3 linked regions of the Homo sapiens genome follow. The protein of the gene in region 2 interacts with the protein of the main gene of each other region in a pairwise test. Each region holds a gene or a part of one and is shown on either strand. Other genes may lie near its edges.

What was found.
Region 1: the proteins of CEP164 (region 2) and CCDC92 interact in binary tests that used the Homo sapiens proteins (3 or more experiments, as listed by UniProt).
Region 3: the proteins of CEP164 (region 2) and TTBK2 interact in binary tests that used the Homo sapiens proteins (3 or more experiments, as listed by UniProt).

Annotation. Positions count from the first base shown.
Region 1 is NC_000012.12:123,935,126-123,944,944, reverse strand, and holds the end of CCDC92 (coiled-coil domain-containing protein 92), read left to right. Parts: intron 1-204; exon of another isoform or gene 205-276; intron 277-580; 5' UTR 581-639; coding exon 640-673; intron 674-1,451; coding exon 1,452-1,598; intron 1,599-2,159; coding exon 2,160-2,201; intron 2,202-7,114; coding exon 7,115-7,887; 3' UTR 7,888-9,319; downstream 9,320-9,819. Other genes in the region: DNAH10 (dynein axonemal heavy chain 10), read right to left, coding at 9,464-9,610.
Region 2 is NC_000011.10:117,393,435-117,403,547, forward strand, and holds part of CEP164 (centrosomal protein of 164 kDa), read left to right. Parts: intron 1-915; coding exon 916-1,059; intron 1,060-1,485; coding exon 1,486-1,569; intron 1,570-1,688; coding exon 1,689-1,757; intron 1,758-2,112; coding exon 2,113-2,288; intron 2,289-2,619; coding exon 2,620-2,746; intron 2,747-3,115; coding exon 3,116-3,177; intron 3,178-3,656; coding exon 3,657-3,879; intron 3,880-10,113. UniProt on the Homo sapiens protein: Plays a role in microtubule organization and/or maintenance for the formation of primary cilia (PC), a microtubule-based structure that protrudes from the surface of epithelial cells. Plays a critical role in G2/M checkpoint and nuclear divisions.
Region 3 is NC_000015.10:42,916,489-42,926,542, reverse strand, and holds the start of TTBK2 (tau-tubulin kinase 2), read left to right. Parts: upstream 1-5,764; 5' UTR 5,765-6,105; exon of another isoform or gene 6,106-6,685; coding exon of another isoform or gene 6,686-6,784; intron 6,785-10,054.

The sequences.
Region 1 (9,819 bases), on a different chromosome or scaffold from region 2:
GCTCTGCCCAATCACTGCCCGTGGTGAGGTGCCCCCCGAGACTGTACTTGCCGTGTCCTGGGGCCACTGCCCTCTCCTGCCAGTTTTTGTCCCCAACTGAAAGGGCCTCTTGTTTCTCTTTTTCTTGGTCCTTTTTAGGATGTATCATTGTTCATTCCCCTTCGTGAGCTCCGTCGTGTTTTATTTCCTTCTCTGCGTTCTCAGGTTGCCCTCGGAGTGGAGTCTGTGGCTTTCCACCGGAGCAGCGCCCAGGAAGTGTTTTCGTGTGATGAAAGTGTATGTCTGAAGTTCGTTATGAACTCGTCCTAGCTCCAGAGCTAGTGTGCATGCATGTCACTGGTCGTACAGATAATTGATGAGCAATTGGTGTCGTCTGAAGCAGTGACAGCCTGGGTGTGTCAGTGTCTCCAAAACGGTTCCACTGTGGCATCCTACAAATGGGCTGCGTCCTGGGAGCCATTGAGAAGTTGTACCTCCTTTACGGAGGGTTCTCTGGAATAGCAAATTAGGGAAAATGCATTCTGAGGTTCTGTATTTACAATAATAATTTATAAGCAAATAACTCACATTTCATCCTCAGTATTTTTCAGTGCTGTACAAGCGTCTTGAATTACTCTGGTAGCTTTTCCAGAAAGACCCATGACTTCACCACATTTCTCGAGTTACGATGAAGGTAGAGTCTGGGGCCCTGAGTGAGCATCAGATGCTGGAAGCTGGGGCTGGGAGGGGCCAAGCATTGGGGACAGACTCCAGACACCTGCACCACCCCCTGGCCCCATGAGATACGTTCTCAGACCTTCCCAAGAAGGATCTGTGGCTCCTCTCAGTGCTGTGAAGTGCAGGGGGCTTCCCTCTGGAATTCAGCCCATCTCTCCCTCCTACTTTGGCTGGCTCCAGATGCCATTTAGAGGAAATGTTTGGCCCATTTCCCAGGTGCCAGCTTTTCCCATGAGGAAGCTGTCAGTGCTTCCTGGTCAGGGAAATCTTTTGGGCGTGATTTGGTCAGTCACAGTCTGTTGGGGTGAGGTGGTGCGTGGAGAGGACAGGATTTGGAACCAAGGGTCCCTGGATTAGAATCCCTGCTCCATACCTCACTGGCTGTGTGACCCCAGGCTCGCGAATCTGCCTCTCTTGATCTGTTTCCTCATGAGTAAAGGGAAATGACTTTGTACTCTGGAGTGGGCCTCACTCATTCATGTGCCAGGCATCGTGCTAGGTGCTAGGGCACACCCCAAGGCGTTCGGGAAGCAGAGGCTGCCGTCCCTGGCCTGGGGCCTCCCTGCAGTGATGGGAATGTAGCCCTGGTGCCCCCACACCCTGCCCTTCAGGAGCCGTGGTTTCCTTCTGCTCTCTCCTGGGAGGCGCACACCCCTCTGCACCCAGAGCCAAGGAGGGCAGGCAGCCCTGGGACCCTCTTCAGGCACCGCAGCCAGGGTCTGTGTTACCCACAGGTCCTCTGGATGTCAGCATGGCAGCCACAAACCTGGAGAACCAGCTGCACAGCGCACAGAAGAACCTCCTGTTCCTTCAGCGGGAGCATGCCAGCACGCTCAAGGGGCTGCACTCCGAGATCAGGCGGCTGCAGCAGCACTGCACAGGTACATCGGGGAGCAGGCCCGGGCAGGCGGGGGGCGGCTATGGGGCACGGCAGAGCCCAGCGTCAGAATGTGCTAGGCCTGCCCTGCCCCCAGCTCCCATCATCGTTGCAGGAGTCCATCTGAATGCCTTATATCATCCTCATTGCATAATCAAGATGCACTAAGCATAAAGCTGCAAAGCCTTTTCTTGGCATACTGAGGACTTAAGAGATTAAAATACAATGGTTAGAATCTCCAATGTGTTTTGGAACTGATAACCAAGATATAGCCTGTGTGATACATAGAGCCAGCTGCTGGATTGTTTGGTTTGGATGGTTGGGATATGCTGTGGGGGAATGGGGAAGGGAGTTTGGGGGAACAGAGGGTGCCCTCTGACCCCAGGGAGCACAGTGGCCGCAGATGTTTTCTGCTGCTCTCATGCTCACCTCTCCTGCTGCCAAACCCTGCTCTGTCTGGGTAGGACTCGCTGGCTAATCGTGGGAATCGGTTTTGCATTTTCAAAGCTGATGAAGATTTTGAAATGTACAGTAAAAGAATTAATGTGTAACATTTCCCTTTTAGATTTAACATATGAGCTGACAGTCAAAAGTTCGGAACAGACAGGTAAGAACTCCTCCCCAGAAGTAAATGACAGTAGGTTTCCCTTTGTGGTACGTGTTGGTGCCGTTTTCACTAGTCACACACTTAGGAGAAAATGCTCTTGCTGGGAAGAGTTATGCGTGTGGCCTGAGCTCTCTAAGAGAAGATGAGAAGGATGTTTGGATCCCTCCGTGTTGCAAGTGGTTATTAGTGGGCAGGGGGATGAGTGATTTTGTTTTCTTTTGAATGACACATATATTTGGAATGCCTATTATATGTTTTTCTGATTTTCCTACAATGAACATGTGTTCCTTGTGTAATCAGGACATAAAAATAGACGTGAGTTAAACCCAAAAGGAGGAGTAACAGCAGCAGCAGCATTGGGCAGAACCGCCCCCGCTCCTCCGTGTCGCTGCCGCCTAGCATGGGCCTGGCACAGAGCAGCAGCTTGCTAAATGCTGGCGGGCGAGTGGTCACATTACTAGACAGCTCCCTGAGGATCTGGGGCTTTCTCTGGACTACAGCCCCAGAACCCTCCCCAAACCAGAATCCTCCAGGACCTCAGGAAACCCCAAAGGGCAGCTGCCTGCTGGCCGCCAGAGAAGAGACAGAAACCCAGGCCTTCCCAGGGCCCTCTGTGCCTGCTGCAAAGAGCCTGCTCCCTAAAACAGGGTGGGTGTTTGGAAAGTGCTGAATCCATGTTTGTGCAGAGACACCTGTTGGAAACGGGTTTATCACGTCGGGAAGGCAATGGATGGCTCAGCAAGGCTAGTTTACTTTCTGCAGAAAGGGTGCAACTCGCCAGCAGTCTTACCACGAGAGCACACTCAAACAAAGGAGACGAGGACATTTATAATCTTCATAACCTGATGCAATTGCCCTATGACTGTGTCCAGTTTCCATTGACTGGAATGGGACCTCACATTCTAAGCTTGACCCGATTGGCTAACAGCTTGAAACTTTCCTAAATAGGCAAAAGGGAAAGAGGACAAAGAAAAGAGGAAGCTAGTCATGAGAGGGTCAGGAGAGTTTCCAAATAAGGAAGAGCATGCACTATGGTCCAGGGCTCGCTCAGCCCTGCGCAGGCGTGCCGGGGCAAGGCGGAGCAGCTACACTGGAACATATATAGAGATATACATAGAGCAAGGAAATGACAAGCTCTTTATGGTTTCAAGAAACTTTGAAGAACTTCTCCATTCCCCACAATGCCTTTTTCTAAACAGGCCTCACAATGGCAGTTACTATTCATGAGAGTGTCCAGTTCCTTGTAAAAGACACAGACCATTTCCACCAAGCCTTAGTGGATTACCGAGCACTGATTTTTTTCCATTTGCATTGCTCATATTACAGCCTCCTGAGTGCGCCACCCAGGAGCCCAGACATCTTTTTGTCTGCGTGTGGTAGGGAAGGCGCCGTGGGCTTCTTGGGGTGGTGGAATGGGAGCCTGTCCTCAGAAGTCTCCCTGTGGAGGGATACCAGGGACCTCCCCCGAAGCCCTGGGACTGGGAGCTGGGCCTGTGGGAATGCAGAGGAACAGGATTTCAGCCTGACACTAGGGACCTCCAGCGTCCACACCTGCCAGCACTGAAGCCTTGGGAAAGGAGCTACCCGTGTCATGGAAGCCAGGGCGTCCTCGCTCCCTGTCCTCTCCTGGCCCAGGCTAATCTGAAGCAGCATAGTTTTGCCCTGTGGCCTCTCCAGTCACGGTTCTCAACCTGAGGTCCCAAGGCCACCTGCCCACCCACCCACCCACCTGATGTAGTACTCCCAGCAGCAGCAGGGTCTCACAGCAAGGGCTGTGTCTTAGGGGAGGCAGTTTCAAAAGCCTCTCAGGTGGTTCCAGTCGGGGCGTCTCCCCTCCCAGTGGTGAAAATCATTGTTTTACATTAGTGCACCCAAAACTGCCCAATTCCAAGCAGTTTCGGGACCCAGGGTACAGCATAGACTCTTGGCTTCCCTCCCCTGGGGGCTGTGACCCCAGAAGTCTGGGCGGGCCCAGGGAGTGCGCAGGTTTAGAAGCGTTGCAGTGCCCTGACGCTCGGGCAGGCTCAGCAGTGCAGCGTTTGGAGACCAGCAGCAGTTGGCTGCTGTCAGCTCAGTGTGCACCAAGCTTTCATGGGAAGACTGAAATTTCCAGAAAGGGGGTACGTACAGAGGAGGAGGTGGAGTGGAGCTTTCTATAAAGAGCAAGAAATTGGCAAAACAGGAGGTGCTGATTCCTGGGAAGGACAGTCACTGAAGCAGCTCTCCAGAGCTGGGGATGGAGGAGCAGTCGTACCAGCTCCTTCCCACAGGACGGCCCACTCAAGTCGGGGCCGGTAAACATCAGCCCGGAGCCAAGGCTGCACCCTGGAGGAGGAGGCAGCACAGCTAGATGACTCTCAAGGAAGGATGATGAGGAGGATGTCTATCCAGGAGGAGCTTCTCTCAGGATGCTGTGGCGAAAAGAACCAGAGTGATGCTTAATGAGCCCCAGATTTGGGCCTCTGCTCTGACTCGGAGGGGCTGTGTGGCCTTGGGCAGGTTCTTTGACATCTCTGAACCTGCATCTTCATCTGACAGGTGCCCCACAAATCCAAGTCCCCAGTCCGACCACCAGGGCCCTCTGCCTTTGTGGGCTGCCCCTCACAGGACATGAGCAAAGCCCAGGGACAGCCTTGTTCCTGAATGTTCCAAACGTCCATCAGCCTTTTGCAGCACTGCCTGGGGGAAGAAAAATCCCAGGATGCTCACAGCAGGCCAGGGATGTGGTTGAAGGTCTGAGGTTGCAGCCCTTCCTCGGAAGGAGCCCAAGGCCCACTGTCCACCCGAGTGTGGGCTGAAAGCAAAGGCCCTGCGACAGGCATGGGTTGTTGTCCCACAGGCCCTGGGGGAAGGACAGCGGGTACCAGGCCCAATGCCGTGCCCAGGTCAGCATTTCAGGTTGCAGGGGTTCAGCCCAGGTGGCTGGGCTCCTGGGTCTTACAGTGTCTACAGAGTCGTGTGTGTGTCTCTGTCCCTCTCTCTACCTCTGAAACTGTGTTTTAGGATCTATTTTCCTTTTGGCAAAAGAAGAAACCTCATGAAAGGTAGTACTGCATGCATCCTTTTTAGGGAGGTCATTTGCTGACATTATACCTGCACATACACACACAGACACATGGTTTTTAAAACTAGAAACTTGCAATGGTTCAACTTAAAATTTTTCAACTGCATGGGGCAATACCCATTCAGTACACTCCTCGACTTACCATGGATATGTCCAGATAAACCCATGGTAAGCTGAAAATATCGAAAACACACTTTTGACTTACGGTATTTTCAACTTACATTGGATTTTTCGGGACATGACCCCATGCTAAGTCGAGGAGCGCCCATCACCTGCAGCGAGCTTGTAACATGCAAGTGTCCTGCACAAGACCAGTCCAGTCAGCTGTGGGCCCTCAAAAGCTCAGAGTCTGGCGGCGGGACATGCTGCAGAGCTGCTGCTAGCTCAGGCAGGTGGGAAAATTCAAAGCAAGACAGACAGAAGCCCGGGAAAGACGTCCAGTGGCGTCCAGTGCCTAGGCAGGCCCTGGGTGGTGGAGTTGGTACAGGGAAACTGGGCGTGCAGGTCTGGAGTTAGGGCAAGGACAGAGGGTACAATAGAGACAGAACAAGAGGTGGTGGCTTGGGGAGAGTGATGGAAGCTTTGATTTATGTGGGAGCAGATAACATTCAGGACAGATTGAGGAACTGGAAGGCATCTGGCAGTTTGGGTTTTATTAGGCAGTGAGGAACCATTTTGAACAGAGGACAAGAATATTTAGGGGGTGACCAAGCTTCCTAAATACAGGATGGGCTGAAACGAAGACCAGAGAGGAGGTGGGACCAAGGCCGGCTGGAGGAGCAGGGAGGGGGCAGCACTGAGCAGCCAGCAGAAAGGCACAGTCAGGGAGGGGAGGCCAGGGATGGCGACTGCATCCAGTTTCCCTGGGAGAGTCAAGATGTGGGAAGCAGAGCAGCTATCTGGACTTGAGGGTGTGTCTGACGGACACTCACTTGGAGAAGTGGTGCTCAGGAGACACTGAATCGGGAGCTGATGCTCAAGTTGAATTCCAGACCAGCAAGGAAGAGTCTAGAAAGAACTTCCCAGGGGCCAGGCAAGGAGGATGGCCAGCCAGCCAGCGTTAGGAGGAGTAGGATGGTGACCCAGGGTTTAGAGCCAAGGGTGCTATGTGAGGTGACCAGGGACTGCAGGTCACCAGAAGAGCAGGAGAAGGAGGTGGCTGGTGTTTGCTGAAGGACTGGGTGAGGGCAGGCACCCAGGGACAGCAAAAGGAGGCAGAGGCCCGAAGTGTTAGGGCAGGGGCAGGGAGGGACCAAGGGTAAGAGCCACAGAGGCGAGACAGCTCACTCTCTGAGCAGGAAGTGGGAAAGAGTCTGTGTGTGTGTGTGTGTGAGAGAGACGGGGGTAGGGGGGTGAGAGAGGCGGCCAGCGGCAGAGCAAAGGTGACAGCCCCACACCTCTTCTCCTCTAAACATCAGAATTTTAATTCAATAGACATGGATAATTCTTTTTACATTTGAGTTTCAAAACAGTACTTTGAATGTAGCAGGCATTCCATAAATGCCATCTGAGCAGACAGAGGGATTTGCGGCCAGTTGAATCCTAAGTGTTTGCTGAGGTCTGATACTCTGCAATTGCCTGTTTTAAGTTCAGCATCTTTAAGGTTCAGAGACATTCTTTTATGCAGTAGGCCAGAGAACTAAGAGCCGGAAAGGGCCTCTGAGATGCCCCGATCTCCCCACCTCGGGGAGGGGAGGGGTCTTTCCAGAGCCCCCACAGCCCTGCCTTCTGCATGGCCCCCACAGCCTAGACAGGGCCCCCACCAGACAGGTCCGCCTGCCCCATAGGCCTCACCACTCGGCCTCAGTCTAATGAGTTCTTCACCTGCTTCCTCGGCTTATTCTTGTAGGAGACGGGACTTCTAAAAGCAGTGAATTAAAGAAAAGATGTGAAGAGCTGGAAGCCCAACTGAAAGTGAAAGAGAACGAAAATGCTGAGTTGTTGAAAGAACTGGAGCAGAAAAACGCGATGATCACAGTGCTGGAGAACACCATCAAGGAGCGAGAGAAGAAGTACCTGGAGGAGCTGAAGGCCAAGAGTCACAAGCTGACCCTGCTGTCTAGCGAGCTGGAGCAGCGGGCCAGCACCATCGCCTACCTGACCTCCCAGCTGCACGCCGCCAAGAAGAAGCTCATGAGCTCCAGCGGGACCTCAGATGCCAGCCCGTCAGGGAGCCCCGTGCTGGCCAGCTACAAGCCAGCGCCCCCCAAAGACAAGCTACCCGAAACGCCTCGCCGCCGCATGAAAAAGAGCCTCTCAGCCCCCTTGCACCCGGAATTTGAAGAGGTCTACAGATTCGGGGCAGAGAGCAGGAAACTCCTTTTGCGGGAACCAGTGGATGCTATGCCCGACCCCACCCCATTTCTGCTGGCTAGGGAGTCCGCCGAGGTCCACCTCATCAAAGAGAGGCCCCTCGTCATCCCCCCCATCGCCTCCGACCGAAGCGGCGAGCAGCACAGCCCGGCCCGCGAAAAGCCGCACAAGGCCCACGTCGGGGTGGCACATCGGATCCACCACGCCACCCCGCCGCAGGCCCAGCCCGAGGTGAAGACCCTGGCGGTCGACCAGGTGAACGGAGGCAAGGTGGTGAGGAAGCACTCAGGGACGGACAGAACTGTGTGAAGCCCGCCGTGCCCCACCCCGCGCTGTCCATGCACTGTGAGCACCACTGGGAAATCTCAGCCACACCTTTTCTGTTTAATCCCATGCATGCCAAACACTTTTCACACCTACCGACCCATTCTCCTTCTGCTTCTCTTGCCCTCTTCTTCACACCAAAATATGATCGTGTCCCTGCCGCAGAATATGTATTTCCTAATTGCTGTGGCCAAACGCCTGTGTGCCGAATCGCTTGCTTCTGATCCCGCTCCGTGTAACCTAAGTGCGCTGCAGGCAAAGCCCAGGCCACGGCTGCGTCACTACTGATGTTCACGATGCCACACAGTCACACACCTAATTCATTCTCAAGTCGGAGCAACACATACCAACCTTGACCTTATCCTCAAGCTCCAGGGCAGCCTGGCCGAGCAGCCCCTGCTCCCTCCTGGAGACCCTTGTCACCTCCCGAGCTCCTCCTGGAGACCCCTGTCACCTCCTGACCAACCTTTCCCAGGGCGGCACCGATCACCGAGCAGCCGTGCGTGTATCTCAAGGAACTAAATAAGATGACGCTACTCCTCATAGCACCACAACCTGAATGTGTGTTCATATTTTTTTGTTAGTTTTATCCAAAATGTTTAAGATCCCAACAAACTTTATTTTCTAAACCTGCCTTCCTTCTGTTTTGTGTCTTTTATTAAACAAACACCTGAAGGAGGGCTAGGAGACTGCAGGAGGGAGAGCAATCACAGGTCCCAGAAGCGACTCCGGCCTCCTCCCGGCCCAGAGCTAGTCCTTAGAATGTGCTGCGCTCCTGAGCTTCTGTGGGAAGCTGCTTTTGCCTCTGATGGCCCCTGCCCACTGTGCTGCCCGTGCTAGCCCCTCTCCTCCCTCATGGAGTGAAGCCACCCCTCACCTCCAGGTGGCCAGCCAGGGCTCCAGGCCAGCCTCATGGTGCACAGAGGGAAGGGGTGCCCAGTGACCACTGGTCCTGGAGGTTCTGTGTCCTTACCTGACCCCACACAGACCCAGGCAGGCTGGGGGTAGAAGCTCATGCAGGAACTAAACACTAAGCTCAACAACTTCACAGTCGCCGTAGCAGGTCAGAGCCAAAGAAGCTAGGGCCAGAGAGTTCTGGAAGGGGGAGAAGTGGCTCCAGGTGACTGGTCACTTCTGCTCTGTGCCCGACATCATCAGCCCTTCTTGCCAAAAAGGAGCATCTGCTGAAACAGACCTGGATCATCGAAAACACACCTTTGGAAATTACATTAGGATTCTCACTTGTGCCAATGCTATGTATGCCAGGCACTTTTGCCTAATCAAGTGTTTTCTCTGAGAAGGAAAAGAAAACTCCACACATCTTAAAATACTCTCCAATATTTACTTTTTGATTATATAAATTCCTTTTAAAAAGTAGTATTAAAAACAAAACCATTCAGGTTAATTTGTATGGAAAGAGATTTAAGTGGCTGATTTCAAATGAAAAATCAGTGTCAGTCCCCCTCCTGCCTCTTGAGAGGCCCCAAGAAATGACAGCAGACCCGATCACTCTGACAACCCCAGGCTCCGAATTCATTAAGCAGTTTTCTTCACCCAAAGGTTAATCAGAATTCAGGGTGAGGCATACTCCTTGCAGCACCCAGTGAGAAATGTGCCTCGTGGTAAAGAGATCAGCTTCAAAAACCAAGCCGACTCCCATGGCGTTCCTTCTCATGGAGGTGGTGTAGACGGGGGTCCGGAAAGTATTCTGCAAGGGAAAGGCAGGTGAGATGCCCCCACGGAGAGAGGGTGCAGAGGGATAAAGGCAGAGGTGCAGTGTAAGTCTTGACAGGCAGGGGCCCCTGTGCAAGACTGCACCTGAGAACACGCACAAGGCTGGGGCTGCTCAGGGCCACCCTCCGCCAGCTTCACGGGGACCTGGCTTCACACTGACACCCTGGTTAAAAGTGGGTCCTG
Region 2 (10,113 bases):
CCCATACATTGAGCTTGTACTGTGTGCCAAGAACTGTTCTGAGCTCTTTATCTATTTTAACTCATTTAGTCCTCACACCAGCCTTAGGAAGGATCTACTATCATTGTCTCCATTTTAAAGATGAGGGCACTGAGACTTGGAGAGTTTAAGTAGCTTCCCAAGATCACACCCAGCCAATAAGTAGAAGAGCTAGGATTCAAGCCCAGGCCATCTGACTCCAAAGCCTTCAGTTTCCTCACTGCAATGCTGTGTCACCAGGGTTCCTCAACATCTTGGGACACCAAGAAATAGACTGGCAAGAGCCAAGTAATACTGATATTCTCCCCATTTTAAGCCTTTGGTCTTAAGGTAGGAAAGTTCAGCGACTTGAGTTTACCCAAGCTGGCCTGCCTTGCTCACATTGAGGGTGAACAATGGGTGGGTAGAGGGTGGCTGACTATAGCCCACAGCTGGGACCCTGCAGGGTGTTAAGACTACTGCTCCAGTAACTGGAACCAGTATCCCAGACTCTTTCTAGGATCTTTCCCAGGGCAGAAATAGCAGTCCCATGATGAAATTTGCCATATCCCTTCCCCCAACCAATTATGACCTTGCTGAAGAATAGTGATAATTTATCAGTGACCTCTCATTCCTTACAGAGGAAAAGTTGTATATGGTGGAGCCATAGGGAGAGCCAGAAAGGGAATCTGTCGTGGTGTCTGACCAGCCTCTGCTTCAGCTCTAGAGGGCTGCAGGCTTGCTGGGGCCAGGGCCGGTGCTGTGCTTGTAACCCTCCTCTTCTCCAAGAGCTGGCTTTAGGGAGCCGATGGTGTCCCTGATCTTACTGATGCAAGGCTGCAGGGCTAGGGGAGCTGTGATTTTTGTGGTAGAAGGGGCTGCCGCAGCTTCCCACCGGTGGGCCCACCCTCCTTGCAGGAGAGGAAGCAGCGGGCTGAGCTTCTGGGGCACCTGACCGGAGAGCTGGAGCGCCTGCAGAGGGCCCATGAACGAGAACTGGAGACTGTGAGGCAGGAGCAACACAAGCGTCTTGAGGACTTGCGGCGCCGGCACAGGGAGCAGGTGAGGGGCCTGGGGCAGGGTGAGCCCACTGTGACCCCTCCATGCACAGTAGGAAGGTGCTGGGAGCAGACGCATGGCCCCAGCAGGATGCAGCCTGACAGCTTCTGGAGTGAGAGTCTCTCACTGGCCATCTCCAAGCTGGGGCATCCTTGTTACTTTGTTTTCTGGGCCAGGGAACACACTCAGGATTAGAACTAGAGGTCAGCCCCTGTAAGGCATTGGGGTTGGCACCTTTGCGTCTCCTTGCCCCAGCAGGAAGTAAACAAGGTGTGGAGCCTTCCTGGGAGGCTGCAGGGGCACACAGCGAGGAAGCCTGAGCCCAGAGTGGAGGTTGTGGTGTGGCATGGTGGGTTCTGGAACCCCCTCCTGCCCCTCAGCTAATGCCTTACACTCTTTCTATGCTTATGTGTTTCCCTTTCTGGGCAGGAAAGGAAGCTCCAGGATTTAGAGTTGGACCTTGAAACCAGAGCTAAAGATGTCAAGGCCAGATTGGCTCTGCTGGAGGTCCAGGTGAGGGATCTGCAGGAGTCCTTGACCTCAGAGTCATAGCTTCTCTAGCAGAGGGCAGGCTCTGCCCCTCAGACCTGGGGTCTGCAGTCAGCCAGAAAATCCTGTCTCTTCCCTGCAAGGAGGAGACCGCCCGGAGGGAGAAGCAGCAGCTGCTTGATGTGCAGAGGCAGGTTGCTCTGAAGAGTGAGGTTTGTCTCCCTGTTTTGTCCTCCCTCCTGTTCTTCCTCCATTTCCTGTCTTTCTTCTCCCTGTTCCCCACATTTTGTTCATCTGATCTGTCCAGGGCACTGGGGTTCCAAACTCTGTTGGCCAGTATTCCACAAATAGTGCCACTCTGTGGACCCCACTTGGGAACCTCAAGGGAGTGGGACTGTGGTAGGACAGGAGCCTGCAGACCTCTTGACCTCAGAGGTGGTGACTTCAGTGGCTCTGAATTCATTCCCAGCCTGTCCTCCTTTGGCTTCCCTACCCTCTCGTGCTGTCTGCTCCCTGGCTTCTCTCTGTGCTGTCTCTGGGTGCTTCTATCTTTCCTTTTGCCCCTAGGAAGCCACAGCCACCCATCAGCAGCTGGAGGAGGCACAGAAGGAGCACACCCACCTGTTGCAGTCAAACCAGCAGCTCCGAGAAATTCTTGATGAGCTGCAGGCCCGCAAGCTGAAGCTGGAGTCCCAAGTGGATCTGCTGCAGGCTCAGAGCCAGCAACTGCAGAAACACTTCAGGTGGCGTGGGCACCCTGCACTTAGCCCTGCTGGCTGCCTCCTGCCTGCCCTCTGACCTCTGCTGCTTGTGTCATGGCCCAGTTAATAGGGAGAGGTGGAGTCCCAGCTTGGGAGCTAGGCAGAAGAGCCTGTGGCTACATTTTGTAGGGAGTTGGGGTTGTTAAGATTCTGTGAAAAGCAGGGGATCTCTGGTGCTATTGTTCGTGCCTGAGCCCTTCCTCAGGGACTTTGACGGATGGGAGTGAGGGGGTGGAGATGGTTCTGACCCACTTCACCCCTCCCCCCCATCGCCAGCCGCTGCCCTGCCTCTCACTCATCTTTCCTTCCACAGCAGCCTGGAGGCTGAAGCTCAAAAGAAGCAGCACCTGTTGAGAGAAGTGACAGTTGAGGAAAATAATGCTTCCCCACATTTTGAGCCAGATCTCCATATTGAGGACCTGAGGAAATCCCTTGGAACAGTGAGCTGGGGGCTGGGGCCTGGGGGCTGGGGCACCAGGATGGTGTGGGGCATTGGGAGGGGCTGGGCATCAGGGGAGTACTTCCAGAGGGGACAGCTCATCAGGAGGGGTGGAGCCTCAGGAGGGGAGGAGTATAAGGTGGGCCAAGGCATCAGGAAGGGCTGGCTCTGTTCTCTATGGGACCTGGTCTGTTCTTATTCCCAGCTACCAGTCGTCTCCACCAGTCAGATGATATCTATAAGTAAACAGTGCCTGGCAGCTAGAGAGCCATTTCCTTGTCTAGACCACTGGGAGGGGCTTTGGGGTCTTGAACCTGCAGGGTGTCTGCTTTTGCTACACTCAGTGGACTTTTCTACCATGTGTCCCTAGAACCAGACCAAAGAGGTGTCTTCTTCTCTCTCCCAGAGCAAGGAGGACTTATACTTGGACAGGTGAGTTCCCATAGCCTGTCTTATTTGAGGTTAGGGTACCATGAAGGGGTAAGTGAGTACCTGCATCATAGAGCTGGGGTGAGCTGAAGTGAGGAGACGGTGATCACCAGTGGGGCTTAGTTCATGGGGAAGGCTCCGGAGGATTAAGGAATCTTCTCTGGCAAGCCAAGAAACTGCCCACTGTGACCTTTGACATGGCATTCTCCTCTAGTGGAGAAGCAGATTGCTGGAAGTGTTTGGTCATCTATCTGGAGGCCCCAGGCCTGATCCCTCTCAGAGTCAGGGTGGGGGCACTGTCAGTCCCAGGCACTGCGCACTGTGGGTATTGAACAGTGGCATCCCTGCACTCACAGTGCCCAGCCCTAGCCCAGCAGCTCTGGTCTGTGCTCAGGGTTGGCATCTGCTGGGGAAGGGGCTGTGTGACCCAGAGCAGAGTTCTTAGAGGCTTCTGTTTTCCTTCTTCAACTCTCCTGCTCCAGCCTGTCCTCCCACAATGTCTGGCACCTCCTCTCTGCTGAGGGGGTAGCCCTCCGTAGTGCCAAGGAGTTCCTTGTGCAGCAGACACGCTCCATGCGGAGGCGGCAGACAGCTCTGAAAGCTGCCCAGCAGCATTGGCGCCATGAGCTGGCCAGTGCGCAGGAGGTGGCCAAAGACCCACCAGGCATCAAGGCCCTGGAAGATATGCGCAAGAACCTGGAGAAGGTCAGGAGCTTTGGGAAGGGCCTGCCAGCCCTGTGTGGGGGAGGCGGGGGGAGTCAGCAAAACAGTCCTTTGGGCTCCCCCTCAGTTGGTCATTCTCGGGACTCCATGAGAGTGGCCACCTTGGCCCTGGGTCACTTATATTTACTTGGCAATGCATAGTATGCAAACACCTTTTCTAGTAGTAAATAATTTAAACCTCATGATAACACTATTAGTCCATTTTCATGCTGCTGATAAAGACATACCTGAAACTGGGAAGAAAAAGAAAATTGAACTTACAGTTCCACATGGCTGGGGAGGCCTCAGAATCATGGCAGGAGGCGAAAGGCACTTCTTACATGGTGGCAGCAAGAGAAAATGAGGAACAAGCAAAAGCAGAAACCCATCATAAACCCATCAGGATCTCGGGAGACTTATTCACTATCACGAGAACAGTATGGGGGAAATGGCCCCTGTGATTCAAATTATCTCCCACCAGGTCCCTCCCACAACACGTGGAAATTATGGGAGTACAATTCAAGATGAGATTTTGGTGGGGACACAGAGCCAAACCATATCATTCCACCCCTTGCCCCTCCATATCTCATGTCCTCACATTTCAAAACCAATCATGCCTTCCCAACAGTCCTCAAAGTCTTAACTCATTTCAGCATTAACCCAAAAGTCCACAGTCCAGAGTCTCATCTGAGACAAGGCAAGTCCCTTCTGCCTATGAGCCTGTAAAATAAAAAACAAGCTACTGACTTTCTAGATACAGTGGGGATACAGGCATTGGGTAAATACAGCCATTCCAAATGGGAGAAATTGGCCAAAACAAAGGGGTTACAGGGCCCATGCAAGTCTGAAATCCAGTGGGGCAGTCAAATTTTAAAGCTCCAAAATGATCTCCTTTGACTCCATGTCTCACATCCAGGTTACGCTGATGCAAGAGGTAGGTTCTCATTGTCTTGGGCAGCTCCGCCCCTGTGGCTTTGCAGGGTACAGCAATGCAGCCAGAAGGCAAACCCTTCCCAGCTGCCTTCCGAGGCTGGCATTGAGTATCTGCGGCTTTTTGAGGTGCATAGTGCAAGCTATTGACGGATCTACCATTCTGGGGGTCTGGAGGACGGTGGCCCTCTTCTCACAGCTCTATTAGGCAGTGCCCCAGTAGGGACTTTGTGTGGGGGCTCTGACCCCACATGTCCCTTCTGAACTGCCCTAGCAGAAGTTCTCCATGAGGGCCCCACCCCTGTAGCAGACTTTTTTCTGGGCATCTAGGTGTTTCCATACATCTTCTGAAATCTAGGCGGAGGTTCCCAGACCTTAGTTCTTGACTTCTGTGCAGCCGCAGGCTCAACACCACATGGAAGTTGCCAAGGTATGGGGCTTGCATCCTCTGAAACCATGGGCCAAGCTGTACCTTGCCCCCTTTTAGCAATGGCTGGAGTGGCTGGGATGCAGGGCACCAAGTCCCTAGGCTGCACACAGCATGGGGACCCTGGGCCTGGCCCACGAAACCATTTTTTCCTCCTAGGCCTCTGGGTCTGTGATGGGAGGGGCTGCCCATGAAGACCTATGACATGTCCTGGAGATATTTTCCCCATTGTCTTGGAGATTCTGCTCCTTGTTACATATGAAAATTTTTGCAGCTAGCTTGAATTTCTCCTCAAAAAATGGGTTTTTCTTTTCTTTCTTTTTATTTTTTAATTATACTTTAAGTTCTGGGATACATGTGCAGACCATGCAGGTTTGTTACATAGGTATATACGTGTCATGGTGGTTTGCTGCACCCAACAACCGGTCATCTGCATTAGGTATTTCTCCTAATGCTATCCCTCCCCTAGCCCCCAACCCTGACAGGCCCCGGTGTGTGATGTTTCCTTCCCTGTTTCCATGTGTTCTCATTGTTCAACTCCCACTTATGAGTGAGAACATGCAGTGTTTGATTTTCTGTTCCTGTGTTAGTTTGCTGAGAATGATAGTTTCCAGCTTCATCCATGTCCCTACAAAGGACATGAACTCATCCTTTTTTATGGCTGCATAGTATTCCATGGTGTATATGTGCCACATTTTCTTTATCCAGTCTATCATTGATGGGCATTTGGGTTGGTTCCAAGTCTTTGCTATTGTGAACAGTGCTGCAATAAACATATGTGTGCATGTGTCTTTATAATAGAATGGTTTATAATCCTTTGGGTATATACCCAGTAATGGAATTGCTGGGTCAAATGGTATTTCTGGTTCTAGATCCTTGAGGCATCACCACACTGTCTTCCACAGTGGTTGAACTAATTTATGCTTACACCAACAGTGCAAAAGCATTCCTATTTCTCCACATCCTCTCCCAGCACCTGTTGTTTCCTGACTATTTAATGATTGCCATTCTAACCAATGTGAGATGGTATCTCATTGTGGTTTTGATTTGCAGTTCTCTAATGACCAGTGATGATGAGCTTTTTTTTTATGTGTTTGTTGGCTGCGTAAATGTCTTCTTTTGAGAAGTGTCTGTTCATATCCTTTGCCCACTTTTTGATGAGGTTGTTTGTTTTTTTCTTGTAAATTTGTTTAAGTTCTTTGTAGATTCTGGATATTAGCCCTTTGTCAGATGGGTAGATTGCAAAAATTTTCTCCCATTCTGTAGGTTGCCTGTTCACTCTGATGGTAGTTTCTTTTGCTGTGCAGAAGCTCTTTAGTTTAATTAGATCTCATTTGTCAATTTTGGCTTTTGTTGCCATTGCTTTTGGTGTGTAGTCATGAAGTCTTTGTCCATGCCTATATCCTGAATGGTATTGCCTAGGTTTCCTTCTAGAGTTTTTATGGTTTTAGGTCTTACATTTAAGTCTTTAATCCATCTCGAATTAATTTTTGTATAAGGTGTAAGGAAGGGGTCCAGTTTCAGTTTTCTGCATATGGCTAGTCAGTTTTCACAACATCATTTATTAAATAGGGAATCCTTTCCCCATTTCTTGTTTTTGTCAGGTTTGTCAAAGATCAAATGGTTGTAGATGTGTGGCGCTATTTCTGAGGCCTCTGTTCTGTTCTATTGGCTTATATATCTGTTTTGGTACCAGTACCATGCTGTTTTGGTTACTGTAGCCTTGTAGTATCATTTGAAGTCAGGTAGTATGATGCCTCCAGCTTTGTTCTTTTTGCTTAGGATTGTCTTGGCTATACAGGCTCTTTTTTGGTTCCATATGAAAGTTGAAGTAGTTTTTTCTAATTCTGTGAAGAAAGTCAATGGTAGCTTGATGGGGATAGCATTGAATCTGTAAATTACTTTGGGCAGTATGGTCATTTTCACAATATTGATTCTTCGTATCCATGAGCATGGAATGTTTTTCCATTTGTTTTTGTCCTCTCTTACTTCCTTGAGCAGTGGTTTGTAGTTCCCCTTGAAGAGGTCCTTCACATCCCTTGTAAGTTGGATTCCTAGGTATTTTATTCTCTTTGTAGCAACTGTGAATGGGAGTTCACTCATGCTTTGGCTCTCCGTTTGCCTATTATTGGTGTATAGGAATGCTTATAATTTTTGCACATTGATTTTGTATCCTGAGACTTTGCTGAAGTTGCTGATCAGCTTAAGGAGATTTGGGGTTGAGATGATGGGGTTTTCTAAATATATAGTCATGTCATCTGCAAACAGAAACCATTTGACTTCCTCTCTTCCTATTTGAATACCCTTTGTTTCTTTCTCTTGCCTGATTGCCCTGGCCAGAACTTCCAATACTGTGTTGAATAGGAGTGGTGAGAGAGGATATCCTTGTCTTGTGCCGGTTTTCAAAGGGAATGCTTCCAGTTTTTGTCCATTCAGTATGATATTGGCTGTGGGTTTGTCATAAATAGCTCTTATTATTTTGAGATACGTTCCCTCAATACCTAGTTTATTCAAAGTTTTTAGCATGAAGGGGTGTCAAATTTTATCGAAGGCCTTTTCTGCATCTGTTGAGATAATCATGTGATTTTTGTCATTAGTTCTGTTTATGTGATGGATTGTGTTTATTGATTTACGTATGTTGAACCAGCCTTGCATCCCAGGGATGAAGCCGACTTGATTGTGGTGGATAAGCTTTTTGATGTGCTGCTAGATTCAGTATTTTATTGAGAATTTTCACATTGATGTTCATCAGGGATATTGGCCTGAAATTTTCTTTTTTTGTTGTGTCTCTGCCAGGTTTTGGTATCAGGATGATGCTGGCTTCATAAAATGAGTTAGGGAGGAGTCCTTTTTCTATTGTTTGGAGTAGTTTCAGAAGGAATGGTACCAACTCCTCTTTGTACCTCTGGTAGAATTCGGCTTTAAATCTGTCTGGTCCTGGGCTTTTTTTGATTTGTAGGCTTTTAATTACTGCCTCAATTTCAGAACTTGTTATTGGTCAATTCAGGGATTCAACTTCTTTCTGGTTTAGTCTTGGGAGGGTATATGTGTCCAGGAATTTATCCATTTCTTCTAGATTTTCTAGTTTATTTGCATACAAGTGTGTATAGTATTCTCTGATGGTAGTTTGTATTTCTGTGGGATCAGTGGTAATATTCCATTTATTATTTTTTATTGTGTCTATTTGATTATTTTTTCTTCTTTATTAGTCTGGATAGCAGTCTATCTATTTTGCTAATCTTTTCAAAGAACCAGCTCCTGGATTGATTGATTTTTTTAAAGGGTTTTTTGTGTCTCTATCTCCTTTAATTCTGCTCTGATCTTAGTTATTTCTTGTCTTCTGCTAACTTTTGAATTTGTTTCTTCTTGCTTCTCTACTTCTTTTAATTGTGGTGTTAGGGTGTCGATTTTAGATCTTTCCTGCTTTCTCCTGTGGGCATTTAGTGCTGTAAGTTTCCCTCTAAACCCTGCTTTAGCTGTGTCCCAGAGATTCTGGTACATTGTGTCTTTGTTCTCATTGGTTTCAAAGAACTTACTTGTTTCTTTTCTTTTCTTGTCTTTTTTTTTTTTTTGAGACAGAGTCTTGCTCTGTCACCCAGGCTGGAGTGCAGTGGCATGATCTTGGCTCACGCAAACTCTGCCTCCCAGATTCAAGCGATTCTCCTGCTTCAGCCTCCTGAGTAGCTGGGATTACAGGTGTGTGCCACCATGCCTGGTTAATTTTTGTATTTTTAGTAGAGGCGGGGTTTCACCATGTTTTTCAGGCTGGTCTCGAGCTCCTGACCTCATGATCCTCCTGGCTCGGCCTCCCAAAGTGTTGGGATTACAGCCCTGAGCCACCACACCCAGCCTTGAGTGAGTTTCTTAATCTTGAGTTCCAATTTGATTGCACTGTGGTCTGAGAGACTGTTTGTTATGATTTCCGTTCTTTTGCATTTACTGAAGAGTGTTTTACTTCCAATTATGTGGTCAGTTTTAGAATAAGCACTATGTGGTGCTAAGAAGAATGTATATTCCATTGATTTGGAGTGGAGAGTTCTGTGGACATCTGTTAGGTCCACTTGGTCCAGAGCTGAGTTCAAGTCCTGAATATCCTTGTCAATTTTCTGTCTCGTTGATCTGTCTAATATTGGCAGTGGGGTGTGGGAGTCTAAGTCTCTTTGTAGGTCTCTAACAACTTGCTTTATGCATCTGGGTGCTCCTGGGTGCATATATATTTTGGATAGTTAGCTCTTCTCCCTTTACCGTTATGTAATGCCCTTCTTTGTCTTTTTTAATCTTTGTTGGTTTAAAGTCTGTTTTATCAGAGACTAGGATTGCAACCCCTGCCTCTTTTTGCTTTCCATTTACTTGGTAGCTATTCCTCCATCCCTTTATTTTGAGCCTATGTGTGTCTTTGCACACGAGGTGGGTCTCCTGAATACAGCACACTGGTGGGTCTTGACTGTTTATGCAGTTTGCCAGTCTGTGTCTTTTAATTGGGGCGTTTAGCCTGTTTACATTCAAGGCTAATATTGTTATGTGTGAATTTGATCCTGTCATTATGATGCTAGCTGGTTATTTTGCCCATTAGTTGATGCAGTTTCTTCATAGCATCGATGGTCTTTACAATTTGGCATGTTTTTGCAGTGGCTGGTAGCGGTTGTTCCTTTCCACATTTAGTGCTTCCTTCAGGAGCTCTTGTAAGGCAGGCCTGGTGGTGACAAAATCTCTCAGCATTTGCTTGTCTGTATGGATTTTATTTCTGCTTCACTTATGAAGCTTAGTTTGGCTGGATATGAAATTCTTTTCTTTAAGAATGTTGAATATTGGCCCCCACTCTCTTCTAGCTTGTAGGGTTTCTGCAGAGAGATCTGCTGTTAGTCTGATGGGCTTCCCTT
Region 3 (10,054 bases), on a different chromosome or scaffold from region 2:
CAAAAAAAATTAGCTGGGTGTGCTGGCAGCCACCTGTAATCCCAGCTACTAGGGAGGCTGAGGCCGGAGAATCACTTGAACCCGGGAGGCGGAGGTTGTGGTGAGCTGAGATCGCACCATTGCACTCCAGCTTGGCCAACAAGAGCAAAACTCCATCTCTGAAAAAAAAAAATTATATATATATATGACCTTGCAACAAAAATATGAGCAAATATGTGTAGCTATAATTCACTCTTCTAATAAAACCTGCAAAAAGTTAACAGTTAATGATATAATTATTCTGTGTTTCATAAAAGGCCTAAACAGGAAGCAGATCAAGAAATAACCACAATTAGAATTACTTTGTGAATGTAAACTCTTTTAGTTTCTTTTCTCACTTTACTAGGTCTAATCAATGTCAATCTTTTCTGATATTACGGTCTATTTTAATCATCATCATTAAACACAAATTGATATCAATAGGTTAAAAGGCGATAAACTCATATCTCCCAAATTGAGAGTTTTTTGCCTTGCCCGCTCAACACCGTTTTCTCTTACCTAATTCTTTTTGCTTGAAATTTCTTTAATTAGAAATCAGGGCCTGGTGCAGTGGCTCATGCCTGTAATCCCAGCACTTTGGGAGGCTGAGGCAGACGGATCACGAGATCAGGAGTTCGAGACCAGCCTGGCCAACATAGCGAAACCCTGTCTCTACTAAAAATACAAAAATTAGCCAGGTGTGGTGGCACATACCTGTGGTCCCAGCTACTTGGGAGGCTGAGGCAGGAGAATCGCTTGAACCCGGGAGGTGGAGCTTGCAGTGAGCCAAGATGGTGCCATTGCACTCCAGCCTGAGTGACAGAGCAAGACTCTGTTTAAAAAAAAAAAAGAAAATAAATCAAGGCTGGGCGCAATGGCTCACGCCTGTAATCCCAGCACTTTGAGAGGCTGAGGAGGATGGATCACTTGAGGTCAGGAGTTCAAGACCAACCTGGCCAACACGGTGAAACCCCGTCTTTACGAAAAATACAAAAATTATTCTGGCGTGCTGGCAGGTGACTGTAATCCCAGCTACTTGGGAGGCTAAGGCGGGAGAACTGCTTGAACCTGGGAGGTGGAGGTTGCAGTGAGCCAAGATCGTGCCACTGCCCTCCAGCCTGGGTGACAGGGTGAGACTCCATCTCAAAAAAAAAAAAATCAAGTCTTTTACTTAAAAGTAAAATTTTCACTAAAAAAAAAAAAAAAAAAGAACAAAGTTTCAAAAACACAAACACTTGAGGTAGTGAATATATTTGATGTGAATGCCTTTCTGTCGAAATCAGAATGCAGCTGATACTGACTTAAAGAAATGAAGCTCTCAGAGAACCCCAAGGATTTGGCCTTTGAGTATCTTTATATGCTGTATACCTCTCTTATAGCAGTTATTACAATGTATTCTAATAAGATTTGCATGTTTGCTAATCATTACATTGTGAAACCCTGAGGGACAGGACTGAATTTATTCAAATTTGCTTTCCCAGTGCCTATCAGAGTAGATGGCATTAGTAGGCTCTATAAAAACTTGTTTATGGGGGCCGGGTGTGGTGGCTTACGCTTGTAATCCCAGCACTTTGGGAGGCCAAGGCAGGCGGATCATGAGGTCAGGAGATTGAGACCATCCTGGCTAACACGGTGAAACCCCATCGCTACTAAAAATATTAAAAAATTAGCCGGGCATGGTGGCGGGTGCCTGTAGTCCCAGCTACTCGGGAGGCTGAGGCAGGAGAATGGCATGGACCCGGGAGGCAGAGCTTGCAGTGAGCCGAGATTGCGCCCACTGCACTCCAGCCTGGGTGACACAGCAAGCCTCTGTCTCAGAAAAAAACAAAAAAACTTGTTTATGGGGATTTTGTTTGTGGATTAAGTAACATTCAAATAGAAACTTATTTGCTGAAAAACTGAAAAACAGGGCTGCTTGCTGGTTTGCAGAAATGCTTGAGCACCAGTTCACTATTGAGTTTCATGTTTCAAAGCACTGCGTAATGAGTTTAAAAAAGAGATTTATTGAGATATAATTAACATAACATATATTTACCCACTTCTCATGTGCAACTCTGAGATTTGTTTCTAAAGAGAGAGATAGAAAGAGAAAAGGGCAGAGGTCTCTTTTCCTTGAGTTGCACACTGATTCACACTGTGGTGCTGTCCTAATAACAATGTGATGTAAATGACACATCTAGATCCTTTTCTGTTTGGATTATGGGAAGAAGGTTACAAAGTGGTACCTAAAGATAGGCAGAAGAGGACATAAATGGAAGGAAAGGAAAAGAAGAAAGAGATTCTTCAATATGTTATTTATTTCATGCTAGGAGAAAAGAAGCTGTGTTAAAAGGGGCTTTATGTCCTGTGTGGGGACTTTTTAATGTCTGAACTTTGGACATTGTATCTTTGAATATGCTGTAAGACTGATCCTAGAGTCTGTCTGATTCCTTTAGACTTATCCAGGGACACATCCTTAGACTTGAGTTATTCCTCTCTCTTATTTTCCCAAGTCTTACTGTATTCGTTATCTCTTGCTGCATGACCAATTATCCCAAAAATTAATGCTTAAAGCAATAGTAAATATTTACTATATCACATAGTTTCTGTGATATAGTAACACATTTTAGAAGTGGCTTAGCTGGGTAGTTCTGGCTTGGAGTGTCTCACAAGGTGGTGGTTAAGAAGCCAGCTGGGCTTTCAGTCATCTGAAGGCTTGACTGGGGCTGGAGGATTCATTTCTAAGAATGGCTCACTAACATAGACGGCAAACTGGTGCTGATTATTGATGTGATGCTTCAGTTCCTTGCCAGGGGAACACTGCATGGAACTGCTAGAGTATCTTCAGGAGAAGACAACTGGCTTCTCCCTAAATAAGTGATCCAAGAACACATAAGGCAGAAGCTACAATGTCTGTTATAACCTGGCCTTGATATTCCCACACCATAATTTCTGGAAAATCCTATTGGTTACACAGGTCAGTCCAATTCAGTATGGAAAGGAATAAATAAGAATGAGAGTAAGTGAGGTAGGGATCATTGGGGGCCATCTGGAAGTCTGGCTACCACATTTATGTATTAGAGACAGAGTCTTGCGTTGTCACCCAGGCTGGAGTGCAGTGATGCAATCATAGCTCACTGCAGCCTCGACCTCCTGGGCTCAAGCAATCCTCCCACCTCAGCCTCCTGGGTAGCTGGGACTACAGGGGCCAGCTAATTAAAAATATATATTTTTTGTAGAGACAGAGTCTCACTATGTTGCTAGGGCTGGTCTCCAACTCCAGGGCTCAACAGATCCTCCTGCCTTGGCCTCCCAAAGTGCTGGGATTACAAGTGTGAGCCACTATGCTCAGTTTATTTCTTAAAAGAGATACATGCATATATATTTGAGTTTTATATATATACTTGAGATCTATCTATATCTATAACTCAAAGGGGATTCCTAAACTCCAGTACCAGCTCTTGAATAACATATTACATTGACATTTAGCCTGACTGAAAGAGTATCTCTGGGGACAGCTCAATAATTCTAAAATGGAAAAGACTGGAGAAAAGGGGAGGCTTTTATTGCTAAGCCTAATTTCAATGAATCTGGACATTTTTTCCCTAGAAACTTTTTTTTTTTCTTTTTTAAAGACAGGGTATCTCTGTTGCCCAGACTGGAGTGCAGTGATGCGATAATAGCTCACTGCAGCCTTGACATCCAGGGCTCAAGCAATCCTCCTGCCTCAGCCTCCCAAGTGGCTGGGACTACAGGTGCATGCCACCACACCTGGCTAATTTTTGTATTTTTAGTAGAGACAGGGCTGGCTAACTAAAAATTTTTTGTGTGTAGAGACAAGGTCTTGTTATGTTGCCCAGGCTGGTCTTGAACTCCTGGGCTCAACCGATCCTCCTGCCTCAGCCTCCCGAATAGCTGAGACTACAGGGGCATGCCACCATGCCCGGCTAATTAAAAAAAATTTTAAATCCATGCTTCCGTGATCATTTTGTGTGTGTGTGTGTGTGTGTGCAGAAGGAGTCTCCTTATGTCTCCTTACATTGCCCAGTTTGGTCTTGAACTCCTGGACTGAAGTGATCCTCCCACATCAGCCTCTCAAAGTGCTGGGATTGCAGGCATTAGCCACTGTGCCTGGCCCCTATAAACTTCTTTAATTTTAAAGAAAAATATTTACAGAAACCCTAATGTTTTCTTATTCAAATTATGTGATTGGTCAATACTCTGAAATGAATGAAGTACTCTATTAGACATAGTAATAGAAAAAGTAACGTGTGGTTTTAATCAGTAGAAATAAAAAACAATTTGGCAACATCTTTATGTTTGCATAGAACAAGATGAGCTGCATCATCACTTGCCTTTAATGTACATTTTGTCCTGCTTTCAATCCAAGGATCTGGACATGACAGAGAGTAGAGATGCCTGCTGTTTTTAAAAAGAATGGCAAGAGGCTGTGGCACTTCCTGAGCAAGAAGAAACAGATTCTATAGGAACAGTTCCAAGATTGAATATAGGATTAGTCATTTACCTTTCTATATTCTTAATCAGCTTTAATGACAATGTCACTTGAGTGAAGAAAAGGATTTAAAGTAAAAATGAAGTTCATAATTCATTACATTCTTTCCATTCATGGCAGAACCCTGGGGATCATTGTGATTCTTAAGTAGAAAGGACATTAGATGTGGGGCGTATGAGAGACCTGAGTTTTGGTTTTGCCACTGATTAGTTTATAGCCTTAGGAAAGCTGTTTAGCGTTTTTCATGTGTTTTCTCTACTGTACACTGGTGGGCAAAGATGGGAGAGGTGCTTAATCTTAAGGTTTTCCTTCGCCAAAGCGACTGACACAACACTAAATAGAAACGCATCCTGCACAGCGTCCTTGCTCCGCCCTCCTCGCTTTTCTTTGAAAGTCTTTGAGCACCTCCCGCATACACTTGCTCAGCATCGCATACTGGTGTGCACCGGGGCTGGCCATTGAGTCTTTAGCTGGTGGTGTTTCACAAAGGGAATGAAATCTTGTTCTTGGGTTGTGAAACCGTAAGGACACTCCGGTCTCCAAGTTGACATTCGTTTATGGAAGTGCCCATCTCCTTTCCTCGTCACACCTAAGGCCCTTCCCCAGTCCCCCAAAGATGATTAGCTTCACGTTAGGCGGTTCTGGGGACGGCGCCAATTTGCGGGATGCTGTCAGCGCTGATGCTGAGGAAGAGGATGGATCCTTAAGGCTTGCAGGGCCTCACGATTTGGGCCCTTCATCGCGACTGCCTCAGTGTGTAATTTCGTATCGTGACAAAGCATTTCCGATTTTATTCCGAAAAGCCCAACCATGGGGTCCCAACCATCCCTCTATAACCAATTTAACTGTCACGCTAGGAGAACACCTATGTGCGCAAACTACTTGTCTCGGAAGCCCTACTTCTCTCCTCGGGACAGGCGGGGAGTTGCGGCTATGGCTGGAACTACGAGGCCCAGAATTCCTAGGCGCATGCGCGCTGCCATTGTGATGCTCCTTTCCCGGTAACTCGCCCTCTCAGGCAAACCTGAAGATAGCGGCAATTCTCCGGTGGGGGGCGGAGACGGTTTCTGCCCGACTCTCCGCCCCCTTCGTGATAGGCAATGGGACTAGCCAACCGACGCTGCGAGTTCGGAACGCACTCTCCAATCAGCACCTGTAGCGGAGAGGTGGGCGTGCGCGCTGGCAGGGCAGGTGGGCTAGGCTGTGTCGGGTTACGAGGGGGGAGAATAACGTCGGGTCGGGTCAGCGGGCTCTGCAGTAGTCGCCGCAGCGGCGATGGGAGCGGTGGGGACGAGGCGGCGGCGGCGGCAGGAGGGGGAGCAGGTGCTGGCACAAGAGCAGCGGCTTGGGGGAGCCGGCAGCAGCAGTAACAGCAGCAGCAGCCGCCGCCGCCGCCGCCAGTAAACGCGGACGGTACCCCAGGGGACTACCCAGCCGGCCGGCCCTGGAAGCCGCGCTCGGGTCCCGCCGCAGTCGGCGGTGGGGGATGGGCAGGCAGTGGCGGTCCCGCCTGCCGAGGGTTAACCCCCGCCGGTCCCGGTCCTGAGCTGGACCAGAGCCCTCCTCCAGAAACCCCTGCGTCCGCCACGGCCCAGGTAGGACACACCCCCCGACCCCCCAGGGCGCCGCCCTCCCCCAGTCTCGACCCCCTCCTCCGGCCGCACCCCTCGCCGAGTGACCGAGCCTGCTGAGGAGGGGAGGGGTACCGGGGACTTTCAGTTCGCTGCAAGCCCGGGGCTCGTGCCAGACCCCGTCACTCTCCATCTCGGAGATCGTTCTGGTTCTGCCCGATTTCCCCGAAGGCTGCCGCCTCGTTTTGCCCCAGGCTTTGGGTGTCTTCACTGAACTTGGAGGGTCACGAAGCTTCGTTCTGCGTCTCTCTCTGTGGGTGACCCACATATCACTTGTACCCATGCCACTTCTGGTACCAGCACCGAACACGAAGGATTCCTAGGAAATCTGAGCGCTTATTTCCCACCCCGCCTCCCCAACTATCATGGAAAGGAACATGGGACTACTGAATCTGTTTGCTGTGTTGTAACGACAGTGAAGGCCGCGACTTTCTTGTACTTAGGGTGCTGAAGTAATGATCTGAGGGATTTGCTCGTCATTTGCTGTGGCAGAGATGATGTTGACACCCTGGGATGCTGTGGGAGGGACAAAAGACTCACGTATATGTTCTGTCAAATCGGAGAAGTAAATAATCCATTGGGATGCCAGGATACTTTATTCTACAGCGAAGTTAATTTTGTATCCGTCGAGGCTACAGTAGAGGTAAAAATGACATTGAGTTGTACTTTGCTTTGAATTAAAGTTGATGGGTAGCAGCAATCCTGGTATTAACTCTTCTCTCTCATCGCTTTAGAAATTATTCTTTCTTTGAACATTAAAGAGGACAGTTTTATTATACACTTCTAATAATGTGAAGATGTTTTGTAATTCAGTAGAAATTGAGTTTCTGTGTGTGTAGGAGGGTCATGTTATGAATGGGCACATGTAGACACACACGCAGAGGGAGGATCCACTCAGTGTGTTTTGTTAACAATGTTTGGTTCTGAGCCATTGATAATAGTTGCATTGGTATCTAAACCCTGATTTGCCACAGTATAACACAAAGATGTGTTGGCTGTGTACCTTTGGCTAAATGGAATAGAATAAAGTTCATTTGGGGATAGAAGGGGGAAATGATTTTAACTTATCAAGGGAATTGAATGCTATGTATTGCTTGCTTTATTTCCTTTTTTTTTTTAAATAAAGAAGCAGTAATGATGACAAATATAGCTTAATATGATTAATCTTGAGGCATTTGTCTGAAGTCAAAAAATGTTTCAAATAATGTGTGTGTTATATTGTGATCTATGCAAATTGAAAACATTGAAGGAAATCTTTGATTTAGAAGCTTATGTTTTCCTGTATGATAACATTTTATCAAGACACCGAAGGGGACATATGAAGCATGGTTTTAAAGGAAAGTTTCTCTTAACATTTTTCTTTTATGATAGAATGTTAGGAAATGCTTTCTTCCCTCTTCCAGTTTTAGACACAGAAGAAATTAAAGTCCATAACTTCATTAATTTAATATATAATATCAAGTTGATGCAAATTTGTACATTGGTTAGGGGGCTGAGAATAATATATCTTGCTCATTATCTTGTACTATGGTTAATACATAATTTAGTAAATTCTCTATTGCATTATATATGACTTTAGATTGTTGTATCTTCTTTTGATTTTAAGTGTTGATTATTTTAATACTTCAGGAAATCTTCAAGAGGTTAGACCTCATTTGCTTTAGCAAATTGAACTCAATTATGTGGGGCTTCAAGTATCTTTAAATGTAATACTAGAAGGGAAGTTTGCATAATTTAGACCATTTTCGAGCGTATTTTACTTCTAAAAAGTGCACTAAAAATGTGGCAATGATAAGTTATTGGTTTTTCAAAGTAAATGAATATTACAGATCCGAGTTAGCTGTGATCATGGAATTTAAATTTCACTTTGGTGGGGGGCAGCCACTTTTTTATATGCTTTATAACTTTAAAAAGTAACATATCCAGATGACTGCTTGATTGCAACTCATGAGAGACTCTGAGCCAGAACCACCTACCTAAGACACTTTCAGATTCGAATCCTGAGAAACTGTGTGAGATAATAAATGTTTGCTGCTTTAAAAAAAAAAACCTCATGCCTGTAATCCCAGCACTTTGGGAGGCCAAGGCAGGAGGATCGCTTGAGCCCAGGAGTTTGAGACCAGCCTAAGTAACACAGGGAGATCCTGTCTCTACAAAAAACAAACAAAAATTTAGCCGGGCATGGTGGCTCACACCTGTGGTTCCAGCTACTAGGGAGACTGAGGGGGTGGATCGGAGGTTGAGGCTGCTGTGATCTGTGATCGCTCCACTGCACTCCAGGCTGGGTGACAGAGCAAGACCCCATCTCTTGAAATAAATAAATAAATAAATAAATACAAATCTATGACAAGGGAAAGTGTTTAGGATCATTATTGATCTAGTAAGGACTGTGTTGATCAGTAAAATAAAAAGTCTTTGAGAATTATGGAAAATATAGCTATAGCTTACTTCTTTCCACACTTAAAAAAAAATCCTATAGGAAATATTCTTTTACAAATATATAGCAAACAGTGTTTTCAATTTGAGGGTATGCTACTCAAAATTACTCTAGTCATGTATTCATTTTTTGTTCTTATTGAGGTTTTTGAGAGACACTCAAAATGTAGCTGGAGCTATTTCTGTTTGATTAGTAATATTGCAATATACCTTCAATATTTATGGATTTTTGAAATTAAATACATTTTATTTAGTTTTATTTCCTAGTCTTTTTTTTTTTTGTCATCCAGCATATTGTAAACAATGTGTGGTAGTGGAAGTTTTTTCCCCAGGCTTCAGTGGATAGAACCTTTTATGCCGAAAGTACTGAAAGCTTTCAAGTTAAATATCGTACATATTTGGTGAAAGAGCCTTTAAGGTCATATGAAAAAATTCAGTTTTTTAGAACTAAATTTTGAGCATAAGGACAACACATATTACTACTCAAAACTGCCTCATTAAAGTCTGGTGATCCTTGATTATAGGTTTATAATACAGATTGAAATTATATTATAACATAATATGAATGTCAATTTTGCTAGATAGTTTCTTCTTTTCAGTTGGTTATTTTTAAATAGCCTTCTTAGTATATTTTCATTAATGTCATGTGACTTTATTCTTGATGCTTAAGTGAACATATAGTACTTACAAACTTTTGTGAACATTTTGGATTTTTTTTCCTGTGATTTTTTTTTTAACCTTTGTCTCTATAATCCTTGGTGTTTTGGAGTGTTTATAGCTGTTTTTTATTGTATATAGGAATTTGCTTTCACTTCAGTTAGGGTAAAGCTTCCCAATGTGAAAAACTTAAGTGTCCTTTGAAAAGAATCTGGGATGTAATAGTGCCTCCTAAAGAGTGGAAGTTACTAAGTAGCTTCTTAGCTTCCTTTGGTAAGCTATCGAGATTTAACCATGTTTTCAGAATCATTATTTTTTTAAACAGAGAATTAACATCTTTATTGAAAACAAGAATCAGCATTTTAAAATGTTTGAATTAGAAAACATATTTGCCATTATATATGTTTTTACCAAAATGGTTTTATAATTAATATTTTTATATTTGTCTTTTTCTTTCTGCAGTTTCAAAGTAGTTGCCTTTAAAAAAATGGAGTTGCAGTTTCCATCATCTTGTTCTAGCCATATGATCATTGAAAGACTATATTTTGTTCATATTTTTCCAACATTGAATTTTCCACGTTATATATTATAGATGAAGTTTGTAAAGTCTTTTTAAATTTCTTGATCCTCCAAGTGCTTCAGTTTCAAAAATATCTAAAAGTTTTATCACCATTTTTCAGCCGGGTGTGGTGGCTCACACGTGTAATCCTAGCACTTTGGGAGGCCAAGGTAGGTAATTGAATCACTTGAGGTCAGGAGTTGGAGACAAGTCTGGCCAACGTGGCGAAACCGCATCCCAACTAAAAATAGAAAAATTAGC